4 separate regions of the Homo sapiens genome follow, and all the other regions are linked to region 4. Evidence: fine-mapped expression QTL. A gene starts in region 4. Each other region holds a variant in brackets. All regions are shown on one strand. Distances are from middle to middle.

Region 1 (5,639 bases), 31 kb before region 4:
ACCGCCATTGTCATCATGGCCCGTTCTCAATGAGCTGTTGGGCACACCTCCCAGACGGGGTGGTGGCCGGGCAGAGGGGCTCCTCACTTCCCAGTAGGGGCGGCCGGGCAGAGGCGCCCCTCACCTCCCAGACGGGGCGGCTGGCCGGGCAGAGGGGCTCCTCACTTCCCAGTAGGGGCGGCCGGGCAGAGGCGCCCCTCACCTCCCGGACGGGGCGGCTGGCTGGGCGGGGGGGCTGACCCCCCCACCTCCCTCCTGGACGGGGCGGCCGGCCAGGCAGAGGGGCTCCTCACTTCCCAGTAGGGGCGGCCGGGCAGAGGCGCCCCTCACCTCCCGGACGGGGCGGCTGGCCGGGCGGGGGGCTGATCCCCCCACCTCCCTCCCGGACGGGGCGGCTGGCCGGGCGGGGGGCTGACCCCCCCACCTCCCTGCCGGACGAGGTGGCTGCCGGGCAGAGACGCTCCTCACTTCCCAGACGGGGTGGCTGCTGGGCGGAGGGGCTTCTCACTTCTCAGACGGCGCGGCTGCCGGGCGGAGGGGCTCCTCACTTCTCAGACTGGGCGGTTGCCGGGCGGAGGGTCTCCTCACTTCTCAGACGGGGCGGCCGGGCAGAGACGCTCCTCACATCCCGGACGGGGCGGCAGGGCAGAGGTGCTCCCCACATCTCAGACGATGGGCGGCCGGGCAGAGACGCTCCTCACTTCCCAGATGGGATGGCGGCCGGGAAGAGGCGCTCCTCACTTCCTAGACGGGGTGGCGGCCGGGCAGAGGCTGCAATCTCGGCACTTTGGGAGGCCAAGGCAGGCTGCTGGGAGGTGAAGGTTGTAGCGAGCTGAGATCACGCCACTGCACTCCAGCCTGGGCACCATTGAGCATGGAGTGAACGAGACTCCGTCTGCAATCCCGGCACCTCAGGATGCCGAGGCTAGCGGATCACTCGCAGTTAGGAGCTGGAGACCAGCCCAGCCAACACAGCGAAACCCCGTCTCCACCAAAAAAATACGAAAACCAGTCAGGCGTGGCGGCGCGCGCCTGCAATCGCAGGCAGTCGGCAGGCTGAGGCAGGAGAATCAGGCAGCAGTACCGTCCAGCTTCAGCTCGGCATCAGAGGGAAACCATGGAGAGAGGGAGAGGGAGACCGTGGGTAGAGGTAGAGGTAGAGGTAGAGGTAGAGGTGGAGAGAGGGAGAGAGGGCAGGATTTTTTTTAAGTAAGAATTCTTTACCAATCCTTCTTTCCCCAACATAAAATCTCCTATTTGAAGTGGAGTTTGAGGTAGGGACTCGAGAGGCAGTGCCTCAAGAAAGCCACACATTGTACAATCTGAAGGTTATTGTTACGCTAAGGAGTTTGGACTTAAAGCCAGCATTTTTCCAATTCAGTATTCCATGGAATAGTGTTCCACAGGACATTGATTATTGTATACCATGAAAAAGTTTATTCTGTTCTAAAGTTAAGTTTCAGCAGGGTTAAGCAGGTTTATTTAATATGGATTAAATAGACTTTAATAAGCTAATCCGAATACTGACTCTCTAGGAATAGGACATGTAATATTTTTCCAAATTTATTTGACCACAGAATATGTACAAAAATTTCCTGAAAGTAGGCAATGGGGAACTTGAAGGATTTTATGGAAAACAGTGGCATGATTTGAATCTGCTTTTGTTTTTTCCAAACAGTTTTTCCCAGCTTAAGTGATGAATAGCCCTGCGGAATGAGATGGGAGAGACTAAGAAGCAAAGAGAGAAAGTAAAATCTGGGAAGCCAGACAGGGAGATTGTTGCCAGGGCAAGAAATGATATGGACTCAGACTAAAAAGTTACAATAGGTATTTTAATATTTAGGGTAAAGGACAGCTTTCTAAAAAAATAAACAGATCTTTGTGACTTGATGGGATATAGGAAATGAGGAAAGAAATGTTGATTCTGGCATGAGTGTCTTAGTTGCTTTCAACCAAAGAATGCAGGAGGAAAAGGATTTTTTGACAGTGATTCAATTTTGAACATATATGTATTTCTTTCATCATCATCATTATTATTATTTATAGAGATGAGGTCTCAATATATTGCCCAGGCTGGTCTCAAATTCCTGAGTTCAAGTGATCCTCCCATCTTGGCCTGCCAAAGCGTTGGGATTACAAGCATGAGCCACTGGGCCTGGCTCAATTTTGAATATATATTTAAGGTGCTTTGGGGACATTTAGCTGGAGATGTCTGACAGGGAGTTTACTAATACAGGTCCAGGGTTTGGCACAGATAGCTGGACAGGAGGGATAGATTTTTAAGTCATCAACATTATAGATGGTGGTTAAAATCGTAAGTATAGATGAGGTTGCTTAGAGAAAATGAAATGAGATCCACACTCCTTTATACCAAAGTAAATTCCAAGTGATCAAAACTTAAACATTTTTAAACAAATGAAAGATGGTAGGTTTTATCAAAATCTTGGAGAAGAAAAGCTCTGCTAAGCAAAACCCAGAAACCATGATTACGTAAACTAAAAATCCTACACAGAAAACTAATGACCATAAGCAAAGTCAACGAACTAGGAAATAAAATATTTTATTTATATGTTATTAAACATAATATTTTATCTTTACATTTTAATAAAGCTCTGTCCATATTGAAAGAAAATCAGTAATAAAAAGACTGCCAACCAAGTAGAAAAGTGTTGAAGGCCATGAACAGGGAGTTCTCAAAATAAGACATATAAATAGGTTTATGAACATGAAATAGTTTTCAACCTCAGTCATAAAAAACAAGTCAGATTTAAAATAACCATTTTTTACACTTTAAATTGAGAAAAATCAAAAGATTTGACAAGAATTAATAAGAATATAGAGTAGCATATACCTTCTTACACCACTGGTAAAAGTTTAAAATGCTATGTCTTTAGAAGGCAGTTTGACAGTCTAACAAACGTAAATGC[A/T]CATACCTTTTGACTCAGCAATCGCACTTCTGTGTGTGACTTGTAAAACATACAGGGAGTACTAAAACTATTCAAAGGAATAAAGTAGAGCTTTGTGTGGTGGTATGTGTCAATATCCAAGACATGTTATTAAGTGAAAAAGGCAAGGTGCAGAACAGTAAATGCATACAGTCTGCCGCCACGAGTAAAGAAAACAAAAGATTATATTTACATTTATACTTGTGCACAGAAATTTTCTAGGAGGATACACTAATGTTAGCTGCCATGGGGAGGTAAACTGAGGAGTTCAGGCTGGAAGAATTTACCAAATAGATGCTTACTTTCCAACAAAAAGAAAATAAGACACCTGAAGCAAAAAAGCAAACCAACGGATAATTTAAAAGTTATAAAGTTTGCTATTGTTAGAGAAGTTTTTGCTGGATATAGTACTTGTTTACATTGTTTTAGGGAACTTTATTATATGTTCAAAAACAAACGAAGTAGTCAGATGACCTCTTAAGACTTCCAACTCAGCTTCGGTGATTGTCAATTTAGGCAACAATATCCACTTACATTAAAAGTAAATGTCTGCTGGGCGCGGTGGCTCACGCTTGTAATCCCAGCGCTTTGGGAGGCTGAGGCTGGCAGATCACCTGAGGTCAGGAGTTCAAGACCAACAGGGCCAACATGGTTGAAACCCCATCTCCACTAAAAATACAAGCAAATTAGCTAGGCGTGTTGGCGGGTGCCTATAATCCCAGCTATAGGGGAGGCTGAGGTGGGAGGATTGCTTGAACCCAGGAAGCAGAGGCTACAGTGAGCCAAGATCATGCCACTGCACTCCAGTCTGGGCAACAGACCGAGACTCCCTCTCAAAAAAAAAAAAAAATTGATAGATAAATATTTGTTTTAGGCTCATGTACACATTACCCACAGTTGTTCTTTTTCCCAATTATAGGGGTTCCAATTTCATCTGCTGTTGCAGGCGTAGCAATAGGATTGGTCACCAAAACCGATCCTGAGAAGGGTGAAATAGAAGATTATCGTTTGCTGACAGATATTTTGGCAAGTATATTCTCGGTTTCAAATATTTAATAATGAAGACTAAAAATAAATAAATAAAAATTAAAAGATAAAAACAAATAATGGTGAAGACTATATGTACTTTGCACCTAGCGTATGCTTAGAAGAATGCTAGTATTTGAAGAACAGGTACTTGTTCTTCCCTTCCTCCTCTGCATGTTCACCTTGTATCTTATAGGATATGAATTTAAAATAGATATTATATTAATAGTAATAGGCCAGGCACAGTGACTCATGCCTGTAATCCCAGCACTTTGGGAAGTCAGGAGTTCCAGACCAGTCTGGCTAATGTGGCAAAACTCCATCTCTACTAAAAATACAAAAATTAGCCTGGGCATGGTGGCACACACCTGTAATCCCATCTACTTGGCAGGCTGAGGCAGAATTGCTTGAACCCGGGAGGCAGAGGTTGCAGTGAGCCAAGATCGTGCCACTGCACTCCATCCTGGGCAACAGAGCAAGACTGTGTCTCAAAATAAGTAAAATAAAATAAAATAAAATGATTACTTTAAAAAAATAGTAATACTTACCCTTAAGTATTGCAGTAATACTTACACAGTGTAAGTATTCATAATGACTCACTTTAGGATGAGCATAAATTCATTCTCAGGCATTTATGAGGGAAAGGAATGATCTAAAAATAAAATGATGTTTCTGGTGAAAATAATTGTAGCTTAAAAAGTCACAAATTGGAAGTGGTAGTTAATGTAGAAAACATTGCTTTGTGTTTGGACTTAGGATATGGTTTACTTCTAAAGCTGTTTTTTGAAATGTTTCTACAGTGAATATGTTGACTTTTGTTTTTGTTTAAAACTATGTCATAACTTTTTAAATTCCTGAAGGGAATTGAAGATTACAATGGTGACATGGACTTCAAAATAGCTGGCACTAATAAAGGAATAACTGCATTACAGGTATTTTTAAAACCCATTTTGTTTCATTTTTGTAACATTTAAATAATGCCATGAGTCAATATTTATATAATTGTTTGACTTTTCCATATTAGGCTGATATTAAATTACCTGGAATACCAATAAAAATTGTGATGGAGGCTATTCAACAAGCTTCAGGTGAGCTAGTGTGCTTGATTCTCCCTTCATTCTTTTCCACTTTGCTAATGGGAACTATAGTTCTCATTAGGCTTATTATAAAATATTGCTTTAAAAAGTGGAATTTCATATAACTTAGATCAAGAAGTACTGGCCAGGTGTGGTGGCTCATGTCTGTAATCCCAGCACTTTGAGAGGCCGAGGCAGGCAGATCACTTCAGGTCAGGAGTTCGAGACCAGCCTGGCCAACATGGTGAAACCCTGTCTCTACTAAAAGTACAAAAATTAGCCGGGCATGGTGGTGCATACCTGTAATCCCAGCTACTCAGGAGGCTGAGACAAGAGAATCGCTTGAGCCCAGGAGGCAGAGGTTACAGTGAGCCGAGATCATGCCATTGCGCGCCAGCCTGGGTGACAGAGGGAAAATGTCTCAAAAAAAAAGAAGTACTAAGTAGCCAGGCATGGCATGGTGGCTCATCCTAGCACTTTGGGAGGCCAAGGCAGGAAGATTGCTTGAGCCCCAGGAGTTCAAGACCAGCCTGGGCAACGTAGTGAGATCCCATATCTATTTTAAAAAAAGAAGAAGCACAACTAAGTTTTT
Region 2 (5,639 bases), 24 kb before region 4:
TATTCTGCTACTTTCACTTAGTTTTATTTTAACTCTTTTATTTAAAGAGTATATAAAAAAAAGCTTTAATTTATTTTTCCTGAAGCAATGTTTGAATTACCTCGTACTTCAAGGTTTGAGGTTACTGCAAGAGAGTGAGAAGCACTGTCACCTTAGCCATTTGCTAACACTGAGAAACTGATGTGATTTTGTCCCTTATTCATTTATTCACCCCTCGTAAGAGTAAGCGGGAGAAAGAAAAAAAGTAAGGAAAGGGTTCTATTATAGTTTCTACTCGTAATTAAGAGAGCAGAACCAGACTCTCCAAAATTTGTATAGATATATTTGATTTCACTAGATGGTGAATTTCAAGAAATCAAGCATATTGGCTCACCATTGTATCCCCAGGGCCTACCTAGTATAATGCCAGGTACCTAGCAAGTATGCAGAGTGTATTTGTTGATGAATGAATTCCTTCATTCCTAAAGTAATGATTAAATACAGCATAACTCCACCCAGCTACTAATAGGTCCCTCCTATTCTCACATCTATTTTTAAGACGAGTTTCCACTGGAATGAGCAAGTTAACTTTTTTTTTTTTTGAGATGGGGCCTTGCTCTGTCACCCAGACTGGAGTGCAGTACACAATCACAGCTAACTCCAGCCTTGACCCCTGGGATCAAGTGATCCTCCCGACTGTGAGTCCCAAGTAGGTGGGCACATGCTACCAGGTCCAGCTAATTTTTGAATTTATTTTTTGTAGTAACAGGCTCTCCCTATGTTGCCCAGGCTGGCCTTGAACTCCTGAGCTCAAGTGATCCTCCCACCTCAGCCCCCCAGAGTGCTGGGATTACAGATGTGACCCACTATGCCCAGCCAAGTTAACTTTAATATGTTACATTTTGTTTTTAAAAGGTGTAACTATTAGTCAGGTGGATGAAGAAACGTTTTCTGTATTTGCACCAACACCCAGTGCTATGCATGAGGCAAGAGACTTCATTACTGAAATCTGCAAGGATGATGTAAGTATAGATCATATTAATTACGTATCATATAGCTATATTTGTTTTTTCTACTTTTTGTTGATGTTTTCTTTATGAATCTTATGGCTTATTTTGCACTTACAGCAGGAGCAGCAATTAGAATTTGGAGCAGTATATACCGCCACAATAACTGAAATCAGGTAATATCAAGTAATATACTATGCTGAGCATTTTCCTTTCTTTAGAGACAGGGTCTCACCCTGCCACCCACAGTGGGATACAGTGGTGCCATTGTACCTCACAGCTGCCTTGAACTCCTGGGATCAGGCAGTTCTCCCACCTCAGCCTCCTATTTAGGACTACAAGCACACACCACCACACGTGGCTGATTTTTTAATTTTTTTGTAAAGACATGGTCTCACTATGTTGCCCAGGTTGGTCTTAAACTCCTGGCCTCAAGCCATCCTCCTGCCTCAGCCTCCCAAAGTGCCAGGATTACAGGCATGAGCCACCGTGCCCAGCCCTGTTTTGGTTTTTAACAGATTCCTATTATAATCCCAATTTAATTTTACATTTACTTTGAAATCATAAGGTGTTTAGATTACATGCCAATTGCCATATAATCATTATTTTTTAAGGTATAGTATATTTTGTTTTCTATATCATTTTATAAAATTAAAGTAGCAGTTCTGTGGTTCTAATTATGATAGGTTCTCTTAACTGAATTCTTTTTTTTTTTTTTTTTTTTTTTTGGGACAGAGTCTCGCTCTGTCACCCAGGCTGGAGTGCAGTGGTGCGATCTCAGCTCACTGCAAGCTCTGCCTCCCGGGTTCACGCCATTCTGCCTCATCCTCCCCGGTAGCTGGGACTGCAGGTGCCCGCCACCACGCCTAGCTAATTATTTTTTGTATTTTTAGTAGAGACGGGGTTTTACCTTGTTAGCCAGGATGGTCTCGATCTCCTGACCTTGTGATCCGCCCCCCTCGGCCTCCCAAAGTACTGGGATTACAGGCTTGAGCCACCGCGCCCGGCCAACTGAATTCTTTAACCAAATTTTCTACTAGTAATTGGTGAAACCCCAAATTAATTTTCCCAGTAAATATTAAATAGGCCCAAAATAGACTTAGCAATATTTCTTTATTTCTTTTTTTTTCTTTTGATGGCTTATTTTAAACATATCTGAATGCTTAATTGGCACATATTTTTAAATCCAATTTCGGCTGTGCATGGTGGCTCACGCCTGTAATCCCAGCTCTTTGGGAGGCCAAGGCAGGTGGATCAGGAAGTGGGGGGTTCGAGAGCAGCCTGACCAACATGGTGAAACCCCATGTCTACTAAAAATACAAAAGTTAGCCAGGCATGGTGGTGCATGCCTGTAATCCCAGCTACTCAGGAGGCTGAGGCAGGAGAATCGCTTGAAGCCGGGAGGCAGAGGTTGCAGTGAGATGAGATCGCACCACTGCACTCCAGCCTGGGCGACAGAGCGAGACTCCATCTCAAAAAAAAAAAAAGCCAATTTCA[G/C]TCTCAAAGCATTTTTTTTGACCAGCTAGAAGAGCTTGTTTTTTTAGGATAAGAAAATCCCTCTTTTAAGAAAAAGGAAATTATCAAATGTAGCAAAAATGTTCAAAGCTATTTGAAATAAAATAAAAGGCAAGGAGATAATTTGTTTAATATTGCAGGTGAAAAATAAGAAATGGGATGGCTTATTTTCATAGATTAGAGAAAAAAGGGAAGATTAGTTTTTTAATGAAATAAGTATTCCATTTTACCTGACCACCTTCCTTAAATCCTTACCTTACAGGTTAATCATATGAGATTCTATACTATTTTTAAAATATTTAATGTCATTTCGAAAATTTTTGGAAAATCGAGACCAGCCTGGCCAACTTCGTGAAACCCCATCTCTACTAAAAATACAAAAATTAGCTGGTCATGGTGGCACATGCCTGTAATCCCAGCTGCTTGGGAGACTGAGGCATGAGAATGACTTGAACCTGGGAGGCGGAGGTTGCAGTGAGCCCAGATGGCACCACTGCACTCCAGCCTGGGTGGCAAAAAAAAAAAAAAAAAAAAATGTTTTTGGAAATTGTTAAGAGAAATACAGAAGAACATATATTCTAAAAGTTTTTTTTGTTGAGACGGAGTCTCACTCTGTTGCCAGGTTGGAGTGTAGTGGCACGATCTCGGCTCACTGCCACCTCCGCCTTTCGGGTTCAAACAATTCTCCTGCCTCACCCTCCTGAGTAGCTGGGATTACAGGTGCGCGCCACCAGGCCCAGCTAATTTTTATATTTTTAGTAGAGACGGGGTTTCACCATGTTGGCCAGGGTGGAGTTGATCTCTTGACCTCGTGATCTGCTCACCTTGGCCTCCCAAAGTGCTGGGATTACAGGTGTGAGCCACCGCACCTGGCTCTAAAAGCTTTTCTATTGCATGTTTTTTCTTTATCTTTTCTTCATTCTTTGATTCACACATATTTATTTATAGGGTATATTTTCAGTTGAAAAGTATACTTTTTATAGTTCTAAAAACGTGCTAGAATTGTTTCTTTTCGTTTTTTACTTTTTCCTCATATGAAAACAATGTTTTATTTGTCAATGGATATACAGATACTTATTATTTTAACCAGGCTTACTATTTATTTTTTTGTAGAGATACTGGTGTAATGGTAAAATTATATCCAAATATGACTGCGGTACTGCTTCATAACACACAACTTGATCAACGAAAGGTAAAAAGACAGATGTTATTGTTATTATTTTTATAACTGCCTTGAAACACTGTATTGAAATTACCTAGGTTGGTAAGAATTATACACTTTGCCTACTACTAGCCTAAACAGAGAAAACAAGTGGCAGAGATGCTGCTGGCAAAAAGTTTTACATTGTTTAGCATAAAGAAAAATTGGCTGGGCAGGGTGGCTCATGCCTGTAATCCCAGCACTCTGGAAGTCCGAGGCGGGTGAATCACAAGGTCAAGAAATGGAGACCATCCTGACCAACATGGTGAAACCCAGTGTGTACTAAAAATACAAAAATTAGCTGGGCGTGGTGGCGTGCGCATGTAGTCTTAGCTACTCGGGAGGCTGAGGAAGGAGAATCGCTTGAACCCGGGAGGCGGAGGATGCGGTGAGCCAAGATTGTGCCACTGCACTCCAGTCTGGCGACAGAGTGAGACTTTGTCTCAAAAAAAAAAGAGTGTCTGTTTTACCATATATTAAAATATATTATAAAGCCATAGACAATAAAATAGTATATTACCGGCCCAGAAATAGATAATCCATGCAACAAGAAAACAAAAACTAGAAATAATATACATGGGATTATAATATACGCTAGAAGTTGTATTATAGTCAGTGAATAAAGATTATTTAATAAATTATATTGGTACAGCTGGTTATCTTAAAACAGGATCTCTACTCATTTTTATACCTAAATCCTGTCTGGATCAAAGAGCTAAATGTGCTTTTTAAAAAAGGTGGTAGGAAAAGATAATCTTGTTGGGGCAGGAGGGTTTACTAGAAGAAAATTGGATGTTTTAATAAGATTAGTAGTGGAGAACTCCTCAACATGATATCAAAGCCAAAAAAGTAAATAAACTTACAAAATTTGACCCCATAATTTTTTAATTATATGGCAAAAATTTCAATAAGGTTAAGAGATAATCAGCAACCTAAAGTAAAAATGCTTATATGCAGAAGCTTAATTTACAAAGGGCTTTTATAAATCCGTAAGAATGATGAATATCAATAGAAAAATAAGTAAAGAACATGAACAAATTATTTTTATAAAAAGCCAACCAAGATATTTAATATCAACAGCAATTTTTGAAATGCAAATGAAATTAAGATATCAGTTTTAACTTTCAGATAGTTTAAAATTCTCAGTGTGTATAAGAGAAAAGATGGACATTTTCATACACTGTTGATGGGGGTGTGAATTGGGACAAACTTTTTAGAGGGTGTTTGGTAAATGTCTATGGACCTAGACATTGTAGGATTTTATTTGGAGAGGATAATTAGAGTAGATGAATTCATGATTTGTGCTACACTGCAACTTATTTTTTTTCACCTTATTATTTTGAAAAGTTTTTAATGTACAAAGAAGTTGAAAGAATGATACACTAAACCCTCATATATCTTTCTCCTATATTCATCAGTCATTAACATTTGCAACACTGGAATTTAAAGCAATTTATTGTCTTTAGGTGATTGTTTAAATAAACTATATAGTTTGAAACTTAACGGTAATTCTTAATTTATTGATATGAAAAGATGTCCTTGGGCCAGGTGCAGTGGCTCACGCCTGTAAGCCCAGCACTTTGGGAGGCCAAGGTGGACGGATCACTTTAGGTCAGGAGTTTGAGACCAGCATGGCCAACATGGCAAACCCCCGTGTCTACTAAACATAGAAAAAATTAGCTGGGCATGATGGCGTGCACCTGTAATCCCAGCTACTCTGGAGGCTGAGGCAGGAGAATCTCTTGAACCTGGGAGGAAGAGGTTGCAGTGAGCGGATATCATGCTACTGTACTCCAGCCCGGATGACAGAGCGAGACTCCATCTCAAAAAAAAAAAAAGATGTCCTTAAGATATACAGTAAGCACAGAGGGTCCATTTTTATAAATGCCGTACACATACACTAAGTAGACATCTGAAGGGATACTCATTGGAATGTT
Region 3 (5,639 bases), 65 kb after region 4:
ATCTATGACCTTGGATTTAGGCAGTGATTTCTTAGATATGACACAAATAGCTCAAGTGACAAAAGAAAAATAATAAATTGGACTCATTCAAAATTCAAAAATTTTGTACTCCAAAGGATACTACCATAAATTGAAAAGACAATCCACAAAATGGGAGGAAATATTTGTAAATGATATATCTGATAAGTAACTGGTATCCAGAATATATAAAGAACTCTTACACCTCAGCATGACAACCCCGTTTTAAAATGGACAAAGGATTTTAACAGACATTTCTGCAAAGAAGATACACAAGTGGCCCATATAAACATGTGGAAAGATGTTTAGCATCATTAGTAAGGGAAATGCAAGTCAAAATCACAATATGATAGCATTTCACATCCTCTAGGATAGCTATAATAAAAAAGATGCACAAAAACAAGTGTTGGTAAGAATGTAAATTGTGACACCCATTGCTAGTGAGAATATAAAATAGCACAACAGGCCTGGTGCATAGGCTTATGCCTGTAATCCCAGCATTTTGGGAGGCCGAGGCAGGAGCATCGCTTGAGCCCAGGAGCTCGAGACCAGCCTGGGCAAAATGGCAAAACCCCGTCTACAAAAATTAGCTGGACATGGTGGCACATGCCTGTGGTCCCAGCTATTCGGGAGGCTGAGGTGGGAGTATCACTTGAGCCCAGCGGGCAGAGGTTGCAATAAGCCGAGATCACATCACTGCACTTTCGAGTCTCTAAGACAATGTCTCAAAAAATAAATATATAAAAATAAAATGGTGTAGCAGCTTTGGAGTACAGTCTGGCGGTTCCCCAAAAAGTCAGAGTACCATATGACCCAGAGTTACCATATGACCCAGCTACCTCATTTCCTAGGTATATATTGTAAGAAAATTGAAAACATGTGTCCACTGTAAAACTTGTATATGAATGTTAATAGCAGTATTTTTCATAATAGCCAAAAAGTAAGAATAACCCAAATGTCTCTCAGCTGATGAATGGATACACAAAATGTAGCATATTCATACAGTGGATATTATTTGGCCATAAAAAAGAATGAAGTCCTGATATGCTAAGCATAGATTAACTTTGAAAACATTGTGGTAATTGAAGTAAACCAGTCACAAAAGACCACATATTGTATGATTCCATTTATATGAACTGTCCAGAATAAGCAAATCCGCAGAAACAAAGTAGGTTAGTGGTTGCCAAGAGCTGGGTGGTGTGGGGGGTGGTGGGGGAATGAGGACTGTTTATGGGGACTTTTTTTGGTGGGTGAAATGGTGGAAATGTTCTGGAATTGGTGGTGATTACGTAACTTGTGAATATACTAAAACCACTGAATTATATGCTCTGAAATGGTGAGTTTATGGTGTGTGAAAATTATACACTTTAAAAACTTGACTTTATGGTATGGACTTAGAGAGTAGTGCCCTGCTTTTTTCGGGAGGTGTTAGTTGTTTGTAGTTCCCCCCATACTCCTGTGAAGCCATCTAATTTTTACAGACAAAGCTAGTCTCTTACACCTTGTAAGTATAAGAATGGTTGTTAGTGTTCTGAGTGCCTACATAGCAAAGCTTATTGTGGGGTAGGCGTGTCTGCTCAGTATACAAAATTTAAATTTATTCTTTCATTTTCAGCCTGGCCTTACCCATGCCCTTTACTTTGCCTAAAGTCATGAAGTATATGGTCCTTTGCTCTGTAAAGTTCATTACATTCTCTATAGAATTTATTCTTTATAGAGTCATTTTCTATGTAGAATTCTCTGTAGTTGGTGATGGTGGAGGAACAGAAATCTCCTGGCTGTCAGAGGTGTAGAATCAATGACCCAGTTGTCTGTTTTACTATAATTAAACTGTTTTCCCTGCTTTCCCCAATATTTTGGTGCCTTTACTGCCTAGCTTCTTTCTGGGGTTTTCTTAAGACAAATCAGTTTCTCGTTTCTGTATCCCTCTGCAAATACTTAGTTCTTGGCTTCTTCCTGTTGTATGACTTGCCTTGCCTCTGATTTCTCTTTTCCAAAAATGCCTTGGCAACTCTAAACTGCTGTTCTCTCTTCTCCTGTTTTCTTTGCTGGTATTCACTTTTTAAATTTCTTACCTAAATACCCTGCAAAAACAACCCAAATGTCCAACCAGAAATTCAGGAATTAAAGTATATGATGAAGCCGAGCATGGTGGCTCGGCTTTGGGAGTCTGAGGTGGGCAGATCACTTGAGGCCAGGAGTTCAAGGCCAGCCTGGCCAACATGGTGAAACCCCATCTCTACTAAAAATACAAAAGTTAGCCAGGCATGGTGGTGCATGCATGTAGCCCAAGCTACTTGGGTGGCTGAGGCACAGGAATCGCTTGCACCCTGGAGACAGAGGTTGCAGTGAACTGAGATCACACAACTGTACTCTAGCTCAGGCGACAGAGCAAGACTCTTAAAAAATATATATATATTCATACCATGGAATGCAAGGGTTTAAAACAATGAAATGGAACTTTATGTACTGACATCGAAAGCTTTTTTTTATATGAACATGATTGTAAAAGAGTAAATATAATTTCAATCTGCTATTTTAAAACAGTACATTTCTAGATACATATTAAAAGTATGGAATCAGCTTCACAAAGTGCATCTCTAGATTACAGGCCTTTTTACTTCCAACATTTCATATTTTGCATTTTTATTATTTTTATTGTAAACATGTTTTAAATGTATGTTAGTTTGCAGAGATAATATAAGTAAAACTCAAATTGTATAAGTGAGTTTTTCAGACAATTTATTAATCTTGGGCAGAAACAATTAAGTGTTAACCATTTGGAATACAAATGTTTGTACGTTATGATATGTAATACTAAGCATAATTAAAACTTTGTAACTTTGCTGTCATCTTTTTGATTATCAGATTGGTGCCTTTTTATACCAGAATTATTTCTTGTTTTTCCTCTCTTCCAATTTGTTTGGCTTAGAAACAAAATAATAGAAAAATGATAGTAGTAATAGCAGCTAATAGCACTTATTGAACACTA[ACTAC/C]ATACGAAGCACTGTGCTGAAGTGCTTTAGATGTTTGGTTATCTATTTATTTATTTATTTATTTATTTTTGAGATGGAGTCTTGCTCTTGTTGCCCAGGCTGGAGTGCAGTGGTGCAATCTTGGCTCACTGCAGCCTCTGCCTCCCGGGTTCAAGCAATTCTCCTGCCTCAGCCTCTGAAGCAGCTGGGATTACAGGCATGCGCCACCACTCCTGGCTAATTTTTTTATTTTTAGTAGAGATGGGGTTTCACCATGTTGGTCAGGCTGGACTCCAACTCCTGACCTCAGGTGATCCACCTACCTTGGCCTCCCAAAATGCTAGGATTACAGGCATGAGCCACTGCGCCTGGCCATCAATTTAAATTTCAAAATAGTTCACTGAGGCCTAAATACTACTATACCAATTTTACAGACAAACTGAGGCAGAGGTATTAAACCACTTGCCCAAGGTTTTGTGTTTTTTTTTGTTTTTCTTTTTGTTTTGAGATGGAGTCTTGCTCTGTTGCCCAGGCTAGAGTGCAGTGGTGCAATCTCCACCTCCTGGGTTCAAGAGATGCTCGTCCCTCAGCCTCCCGAGTAGCTGGGACTACAGGTGCCTGCCATCACGCCAGGCTAATTTTTGTATTTTTGGTAGAGATAGGGTTTTGCTATGTTGGCCAGGCTGGTTTTGAACTCATTATCTCTCAGGTGACCCATCCGCCTCGATCTCCCAAAGTGCTGGGATTACAGGCATAAGCCCAGCCCCAAAGTTTTGTTTTTGTTTTTGTTTTTTTTTACATAAAACGTGGTGTCATTAGAATTTGACATCAGACCTACAGTTAGCCTATTTTTAACAATTTAGCCATATTGCTTCTTGCATATCCAGACTTAAGATGTGTGTGTGATTAAGTTGAGAAACAGATTCTCAGACAGGTATATAAGTCTTTCTGATAACTGTTTCTAGCTGCCCAGAGGCCTTTTTTTGGTTGGTTAATATTATACTGATTTGGTTACATTCTGGTAAAACCCGATACCTCAGTACTTCAGGTATGAAGTATGAGTTACTTCAGTTGTATTTGTTTTATCTCCTAGAGGTCTGAAGGGTTTGAACTAAATACAGTGTTTACAGTAGCCCTCTTAACCTATAGGACATAAGTTTTCATGGGATTGGCTCAAAATGAATGAAACCCTGTGGATGTGTAATTTTCTGGAGAGTACCCAGAGTTTTTCTAGGATTTTCACAGAGGTCTGTTACTCATCAAAGGCCAAGACCACGAATTACCTCATCCTTATTGTTCTTTTGGTCAGCGAGCTAGCCCTAAATGTTTTACTTATTATTTTATAGGAATCATTTCATGTGTTTATCTCCAGCCATTTAAGCTGTACTTCAAAAGCACAATGAAAATAATGTGTACTTAGTGATGAAATATACACAAGATGAACAAAGACTACAAGGGGCTTTCTTGTGGTAATGAAATTAGAGAAATGAACCAGTTCATCTCCAATGTCCTTTCCAGCTTCCAAATGTTATTAATTGTTATCCCTACTGTTTGGAAAAGTAGACATTTTCCCACAGTAAAATTTTGCAGAATTGAGTTTTGAAGTATCATTAATAATCCAAGAACCAGATAGAAAAGTTAAGGGTTACTGCAAGTGCTACCAATTACTACTCAAACGTTCATAATTTCAAGCAGTTCCTTTATCAAATTCAAATGTTAATTTCTGATATGATTTAGAAAAACGATTTCTGATATTTTTACAAGTGATTGTATTTGTACTAAAAGCTCTTTTTTGTTATATATGTTTAAAGAAAAAATTTTTAAATTCTTCAATAGGGAAGTTTGGTTGGCTTAGTGGATTATCCAGATGATGAAGAGGAAGATGAAGAAGAAGAATCGTCCCCCAGGAAAAGACCTCGTCTTGGCTCATAAAATATTTATTAGGGGACCCTCAACATGTGGTCTTACAATGCTGCAACTGTTCAGTGAGCTGAAAATCTGAATCAGAAAGCTTTCTCAATTGAACTTATAAAATATACAAGGAGTAGCAAAAGACAGTATATCAGCTAAGAGAGTTTAGTTCTAATAAAAATCAGGCTTCCCAGGAACTTGATTGCTTGCTAGTAATTAAGGGGTTTGCCTTTTAGGCTGTCAAAACAAACATTAGTAACCAGAACCTGGGAGACAGCTTCTCAGCAAGGAAAAGTCACAGGTTTGGGGACGGTTTAGGGGAGGGGAAAAGGTTGATATAATAATGCAGGGTTGCTCCTCGGGGTGTCGATCTAGAAACAATTTTACAGAACTTCAGTTGTAAACTCAATAACATTACTTGTATAATGGTGCTGGCCATGTTGTTGTTTTAATCAGTTGCCTCTTTTTAAAAGAAATTTTTATGGAAAACACATTCAACTATCATTAAAAAAATGAAGTTAAGCTGTTGGGACCATTTCTTTAAGATTTAACAAAAGTTCAGCCTTTTAGGTAGTTGAAGGGAAGTACACCCCGTATTCAGCACATGTTGAGTTTTCTACACCAGGAATTTTCAATATGTATATTGATGAAAACAAGCTCAATTCAAACTGGACAGTTTTAAGATAATGTTAAAATCAGCACTTTTAGAGACAACGAAGGCCAAGAATCAGTACA
Region 4 (5,639 bases):
GACTAAAAGAAGACTTAGTTTTCACTATATATCTTTGCCTTTTTTTTTTTTTTTTTTTTTGAGACAGTCTGTCACACTGTCCCCCAGGCTGGAGTGCAGTGGTGCAATCTTGGCTCACTGCAACCTCTGCCTCCCAGGTTGAAGCGATTCTCCTACCTCGGCCTCCCAAGTAGCTGGGATTACAGGCCCCCACCACCACGCCCAGCTGATTTTTGTATTTTTAGCAGAGACAGGGTTTCACCACGTTGGCCTGGCTGGTCTGGATCTCCTGACCTCGGGCAATCTGCCCACCTCGCCCTCCCAAAGTGCTGGGATTACAGGCGTGAGCCACCATGCCCGGCCTCTCTTTTTAATTTCATATGTGTAAAGGCATTACTTATTCAAAACAACAAAAAAGGAAGATTGTGGGCTTATTTGGTTAGCAACTCTTTGAAGTGGAACTTTGATGACTGCCTGAAGCAAAGAACATCTGCTGGGGAAGATGTGGTTATGGGGGGCCCTCAGACTTGGATAAGCACTGAGCCCTGTGCTTTGGAGGGGTCTGAAATCCATGGAATCATGGGACTGTAGCCACCTGCAGCCCACTTTCCCTTTTCCAGACCATGCTGTGGGCACTCTAGTATTCCCTATCCCAAACGCCAAGCCTGACTCCAGGGTCTGCACAATCCTCTTCCCAAGTTCAGTCTTCCTGGGGAGTAACCAAAGGGTGAGGCTTGGACAGAAGGCTGGAGAGTCTAACATCAGGCTCAAAAATTGTGTGAAGCATTCTCTGACTCTTCCAAGACAGAAATGTTATTTTCTCTGAGGTCAAAATACATTTTGTCCACTTTCATCACATCAATTAATTGGCTCTATTGTTATGTATTATATTATGATGATTTTCTTCAAGTACATTTTCTGAGGTCTCTAGATTAAAAAAAAAAACTATGAATCCAGATTTTGAAATTATTTCTATCAGCATGTGTTCTGTACACTGACCCACGTTGTAGTGTACTGCTGAAGGGTGTCCACACTTAAGCGATCTGGTCAAAACATAAGCACGTTTTAACAAGACCATTGATTAGTTATGACTACAACTCCCAAGATGCACTGCAGGGTCAGTGTGCGCGTCTCGCCTAGTTTTCACCGATCAGGCTAATGAGCTGCACAGAAGTGGCAGCTGAACAAGCTGAGAGACTGTATTAAAGAACGAATATAGCGGGGATGGGGAGCAGGCGTCTACGGTCCCAGCTACTCGGGAGGCTGAGGTGAGAGGATCGCTTGAGCCCTCAAGGCGGAGGCTACAGTGAGTCGAGATAGCGCCATTGCACTCTAGCCTGGGAAGCAGAGAGAGACTATCAAAAACAACAAAACGAATAAAGGGATTCTACCAAGAGTGAGCTGGACTGAAATAAACGACACGCTACTACGACCCAGCGCGTGACTATATCCACCGCACAATGTGCGATAATAGCCTCAATGCAGAGAGAATTCCTCCTTTCCTTATTCAGTGCAAGAGAGCCCTATAGAGAACGCAGGAAATGCCCGCGAGAAACTGAGAAGTATCAAAACAATCACAGATATGTTAGGAAAGTAGCTCCCCGCCACTTCCCTAAACTTATCATAGCAGACTTACTTTCCAAGGTTACAAACACAAGAAGAGCACTGTATTTTCATGAAGCGGAAAATGTGCTTTACAATCGCCAGCTACTAAGAGCCTTAACGGTGAAGCGCTCTGCAAGAAACAGGAAATCGTCAACACACTTTCTGCATGAATTGCCTGGAGAGTTGTGTCCATAGACAATTCCTGGTTAGATGCTTAATTGTAGCAGACTCCATAACGGGGTTTAGCGGGTTTCCATTCGGCAGAAAGGGCTCCACGTTCTTTTTCACAGAAAGGTTTAAACTTATTTTTCCTCCTCAGGCGGACGAAGTGAGCGTCGTTCCGTGAAGGTATGAAACCCTTTTCCTTCCTTTCTGTCCCTGGTTACTCCGGTTCAAGGCTACGTACTTCCCCGGTTTGCTTTGTTTTTTCCTCAGAGCTAAGTTCCTAGGAACGTCACATACTGGTGCCATCCAACAACATGACGACGTGCGGAACCGAAGTCCCCTTCCACCTAGCGGCCTCTCGCGGCGCAGGCGTGGACGGGGAGATCGCGAGAACCTCCCGCCCAATTGCGACCCCGCGCCAAGAGGCGGGGCCGAAAGAGGAGGAAGTCGGGCCGAAAGAGGAGGAAGTCTCGCCGAAGTACTCCCGCCCCAGTCGGTACCCCTCCTCGCGAGAGCGCCGAGCATTCCGGCCTGGGAAGCGCGTGCAGAAGCGGAGGTGCTGCTCATGGGACTTGTCGGCCGCCGTAGCCCCTGCTAGGACAGCCCGTGCGAGCCTGCTGGAGGAGGAAGAGAAAGGCAGAGAGAGTCGGGTTACAAGATGGCGGATCTGTAGTAGTTACCGCGGCGGCGGGAGAGCAAGCGAGCCCTGGGGGGCAAAGAGACGGGAGAGTGGGTGTATGCGCGGGTGAAGTGAGAGGTAACGGGGCCTCCGGGCGGAGAGGCCTCAGTGGCTCTTGTCACCCCTTCTCGCGGCTGAACCTTTGGAGCCATGGTGAATTCGGGCCTCTCCGAAGCCGCCGCCGCCGCCACCGCCACTACTGCCTTTACCGTCTCCTAAGAGTGAGGAGCGCGGACGAGGTAAGCGAGGAGGCGGCGGCTAGAGCGGTGGAGACAGCAGCCACCATGTCGGATACGCGGCGGCGAGTGAAGGTCTATACCCTGAACGAAGACCGGCAATGGGACGACCGAGGCACCGGGCACGTCTCCTCCACTTACGTGGAGGAGCTCAAGGGGATGTCGCTGCTGGTTCGGGCAGAGTCCGACGGTAAGGTTATCGGAACTGTAGAATAGGGGATAGTGCCTCTGGTTGGGGCACAGCTTGGGTTTAGGGCCCTGGGCCCGTTACCGTTGCTACTCCTTCGGGACAGCGCGTTGGTTCTGAACTGGCTCTTGTGTACGGCAAAAACAAAGTACTGTACTTTTGACTGGACTTATCCTCGGAGACCGAGACTCTCTGTCCTTCTCCCATCTCTCTTAAGGATTGGACTCCTTCCTTTCCAGTCCCTCCTCTTTTGAAGAGGGGAGAGTGTGAGAGAGAAGGGAGGAAGTAGTGAGAGACTAGGTACTGATGTCGCCCTAGGAGCTGACACCTTCCTCCCCCTTTATTTACTTATCCATTATACGTCTAGTACAAACGGTTTAGGGAAACTTTTCTTTCCGAGTGTTTTTAAAAAAAAAAAATTGTACCAACGGGCCCCAGGTGCCACAGTCGACAGGTGCTGGGGAAAACCGAAAGGCACGTTTTCCTGGCTGTATTGCTGACTGTTGCCACGATACATGGACACACAAGCACATACATCTGTAGTCTGCATTTCTTCGGGCTGCCTTTGTAGAAGGCGCTATGAGAAAGTGAATGCCTTACAATCTAAGCAAGTTGGGACACCAAAGCAGGTTGTAAACTGCTGTGTTCTTTGGTTTATTGTAGTCATGTGAAGTATTTTAAATTACAAAATGTAGAGCCGTAATTAAAATGCCTTTTATAGTATAATCTGGACTTGATTTGAACAACTGATATAGGCAGTTAGAAAAATAATCTTAGGTTTAGTCTTGACATATTTTGTATTCTTGCTTGTTCCCTTTTATTTTAAATAGTCATCACTTCTACAGAAGGTGTTCTTTTGTTCTTAATGAGGAAAGGATAAATGCAGCACTGTAATTTCTATACTAAGTATTTAATCCCTGTCATGATGTTTTTGTTTTGTAATTTGCATTATTTGTTAAACTGGGAATGCAATAAAACAACTTTTGTTAAAACGAATGGCTTGAAGTGGTCATTTAGACCTTAAAATTTTTATTTCAATAAAATTTTAATAGTCATCTAGTCTCCTCATTCCTTGGTTTGATTGTTGGTTTTAGATTAATTTTTCCTTTAAGGGTGTATGGGAATAGGGTGAAATATTTTAGATTAAATGTGAAGCCTAGATTTGGAGAGAAAATGTGAATTCGAATACATTTTATTAAGATGTCCAACTCGGTAAAAAGACTTGAAAAGTTTGCGGGGGCGGGGGGCGGGGTTTAAATGTGTATTTTTTTTTTTTTTTTTTTTTTTTTGGAGACAGAGTCTTGCTCTGTTGCCAGGCTGGAGTTCAATGGCGCGATCTGGGCTACTGCAACCTCTGCCTCCTCTCCCTCTCTCTCAAGCGATTCTCCTGCCCCACCCTCCCGTGTACCTGGGACTACAGGCATGCGCCACCACGCCCAGCTAATTTTTGTATTTTTAGTAGAGACGGTTTCACCATGTTGGCTGGAATGGTCTGGATCTCTTGACCTCGTGATCTGCCCGCCTCCCAAAGTGCTAGGATTACAGACGTGAGCCACTGCGCCCGGCTTTAATGTGTATTCTAATTTTTATTCAGGGTTTTATCATTTGAGACTTATGATGTATTATTTTTTATCTTTCAGGATCACTACTCTTGGAATCAAAGATAAATCCAAATACTGCATATCAGAAACAACAGGCAAGTAGTTGTTTATCTTTAATTTGAAAGACTTCATCTGTGATCAAGGAAGTATTAATCTGACAAAGGTGGGAAAGCTTTCCTGACAAGAAAAAAACATGTTTGGTAAACAAAGATCATGTGTATTTCTCTTGCAGGTTAAAAGTTTCAGACTGAAAAAAAGTTTTTGTACTGGTGATAATTATCATTTTTGGATTGAGCCACTGTCGGTTTATTCTAAGATGTATTTATTAGTATTATTTAACTGTAGTTAGCCAAGTCTCTTCTATACCTTGTACATGAAACCTTTTATTCTGAGTCACGTTTAAAGGAAATGACATAGAACAAAATTCAAAGGGATACTCTTAAAGCAAGGAAAGCCTGTTTGTGGTGTGAAATTAAATCCTTTGACTCAAGTAAAGGTAGAGGTTTTGAAGTAGAAGCATTAAATCCTGCTCTTTAATTGTTGTGTATTTTTAATATAGTAATCAATGGATACTTTATAAAAATGTACATTACCAAGTATGTAACATCTTCTGTTAATATTGTCTTATTTGGGAAAGAAAATGTGTATTGTATTTTAGCACGCCTGATTAATCTGAAAATGGTAGCAGTGATTCAATCTTTTTTATTCTGTGAATGTTTTTGTTTTTATTATGAAATATATTAAAATTGAAAAGTACAGAGAATAATCGGTGTCTACTGTAACACCACCAGATTTAACAATGTTAATGTTACGCCATATTTGTTTCAAATATTTTTGTAATATTGAACATTATGGATAGAGTTAAAGCTTGTTTGTATCCATCCCGTTGTTTACATTCTCCATCCCCTACATAGGTAACCACTATTCTGAAGTTGATGTGTATTCTTTGTGTACATGCTTTTATACCTTTTCTGCATATGTATGTATCCATAAATAATATGTAGTCTGTTGTGTGTTTTTAAACTTTACACAGTGGATGTCATACTCTTACATGTATTCTGCAGCTTGCATTTTTCACACATTCATTTTGAATATTCGTTCATGTTAACAATGTAGATCTAGTTTTCTTTTTAAACTCTGTATAGTATTCTTATGTATGACATACACTTGTTGTTATACATTTGAAT

Which allele goes with the higher level. Positions count from the first base shown, and alleles are read on the strand shown. Sizes are in standard deviations (SD) of each study's normalised expression. Not every link is listed here.
For the expression in putamen of the gene that starts at base 2,376 in region 4, allele G in region 2 goes with a higher level than allele C (small effect, 0.33 SD a copy in GTEx).

Evidence for each region. PIP is the estimated chance that this variant, and not a neighbour inherited with it, causes the effect. A credible set is the group of variants that fine-mapping cannot tell apart.
Region 1: its variant is the best candidate, but not a certain one, in a credible set for the expression of PPP4R3B in whole blood (INTERVAL, PIP 0.57).
Region 2: its variant is the best candidate, but not a certain one, in a credible set for the expression of PPP4R3B in putamen (GTEx, PIP 0.63).
Region 3: its variant is the best candidate, but not a certain one, in a credible set for the expression of PPP4R3B in whole blood (TOPMed, PIP 0.57).

What each region holds. Positions count from the first base shown.
Region 1 is chr2:55,645,679-55,651,317 of GRCh38, reverse strand. It overlaps PNPT1 (polyribonucleotide nucleotidyltransferase 1), which reads left to right. Exons shown (of 28, transcript NM_033109.5): 19 at 3,865-3,971; 20 at 4,832-4,903; 21 at 4,996-5,059. Among named protein-coding and RNA genes, the nearest start is that of PPP4R3B-DT, 31 kb to the right of the region's middle. RefSeq lists an enhancer at 647-1,259. The variant A/T (reference allele first, on the strand shown) is at 2,928.
Region 2 is chr2:55,638,681-55,644,319 of GRCh38, reverse strand. It overlaps PNPT1 (polyribonucleotide nucleotidyltransferase 1), which reads left to right. Exons shown (of 28, transcript NM_033109.5): 24 at 895-1,001; 25 at 1,107-1,162; 26 at 3,615-3,693. Among named protein-coding and RNA genes, the nearest start is that of PPP4R3B-DT, 24 kb to the right of the region's middle. The variant G/C (reference allele first, on the strand shown) is at 2,484.
Region 3 is chr2:55,549,197-55,554,835 of GRCh38, reverse strand. PPP4R3B (protein phosphatase 4 regulatory subunit 3B) reads left to right here. Exons shown (of 17, transcript NM_001122964.3): 17 at 4,830-5,639. The coding sequence ends at 4,925. Among named protein-coding and RNA genes, the nearest start is that of CFAP36, 32 kb to the right of the region's middle. The variant ACTAC/C (reference allele first, on the strand shown) is at 3,011.
Region 4 is chr2:55,614,359-55,619,997 of GRCh38, reverse strand. PPP4R3B (protein phosphatase 4 regulatory subunit 3B) reads left to right here and starts at 2,376. Exons shown (of 17, transcript NM_001122964.3): 1 at 2,376-2,854; 2 at 4,492-4,547. The coding sequence starts at 2,713. PPP4R3B-DT (PPP4R3B divergent transcript) reads right to left here and starts at 2,068. Exons shown (of 3, transcript NR_186624.1): 1 at 1,616-2,068. RefSeq lists enhancers at 2,006-2,055, 2,076-2,475, 1,569-2,493, 2,494-3,420.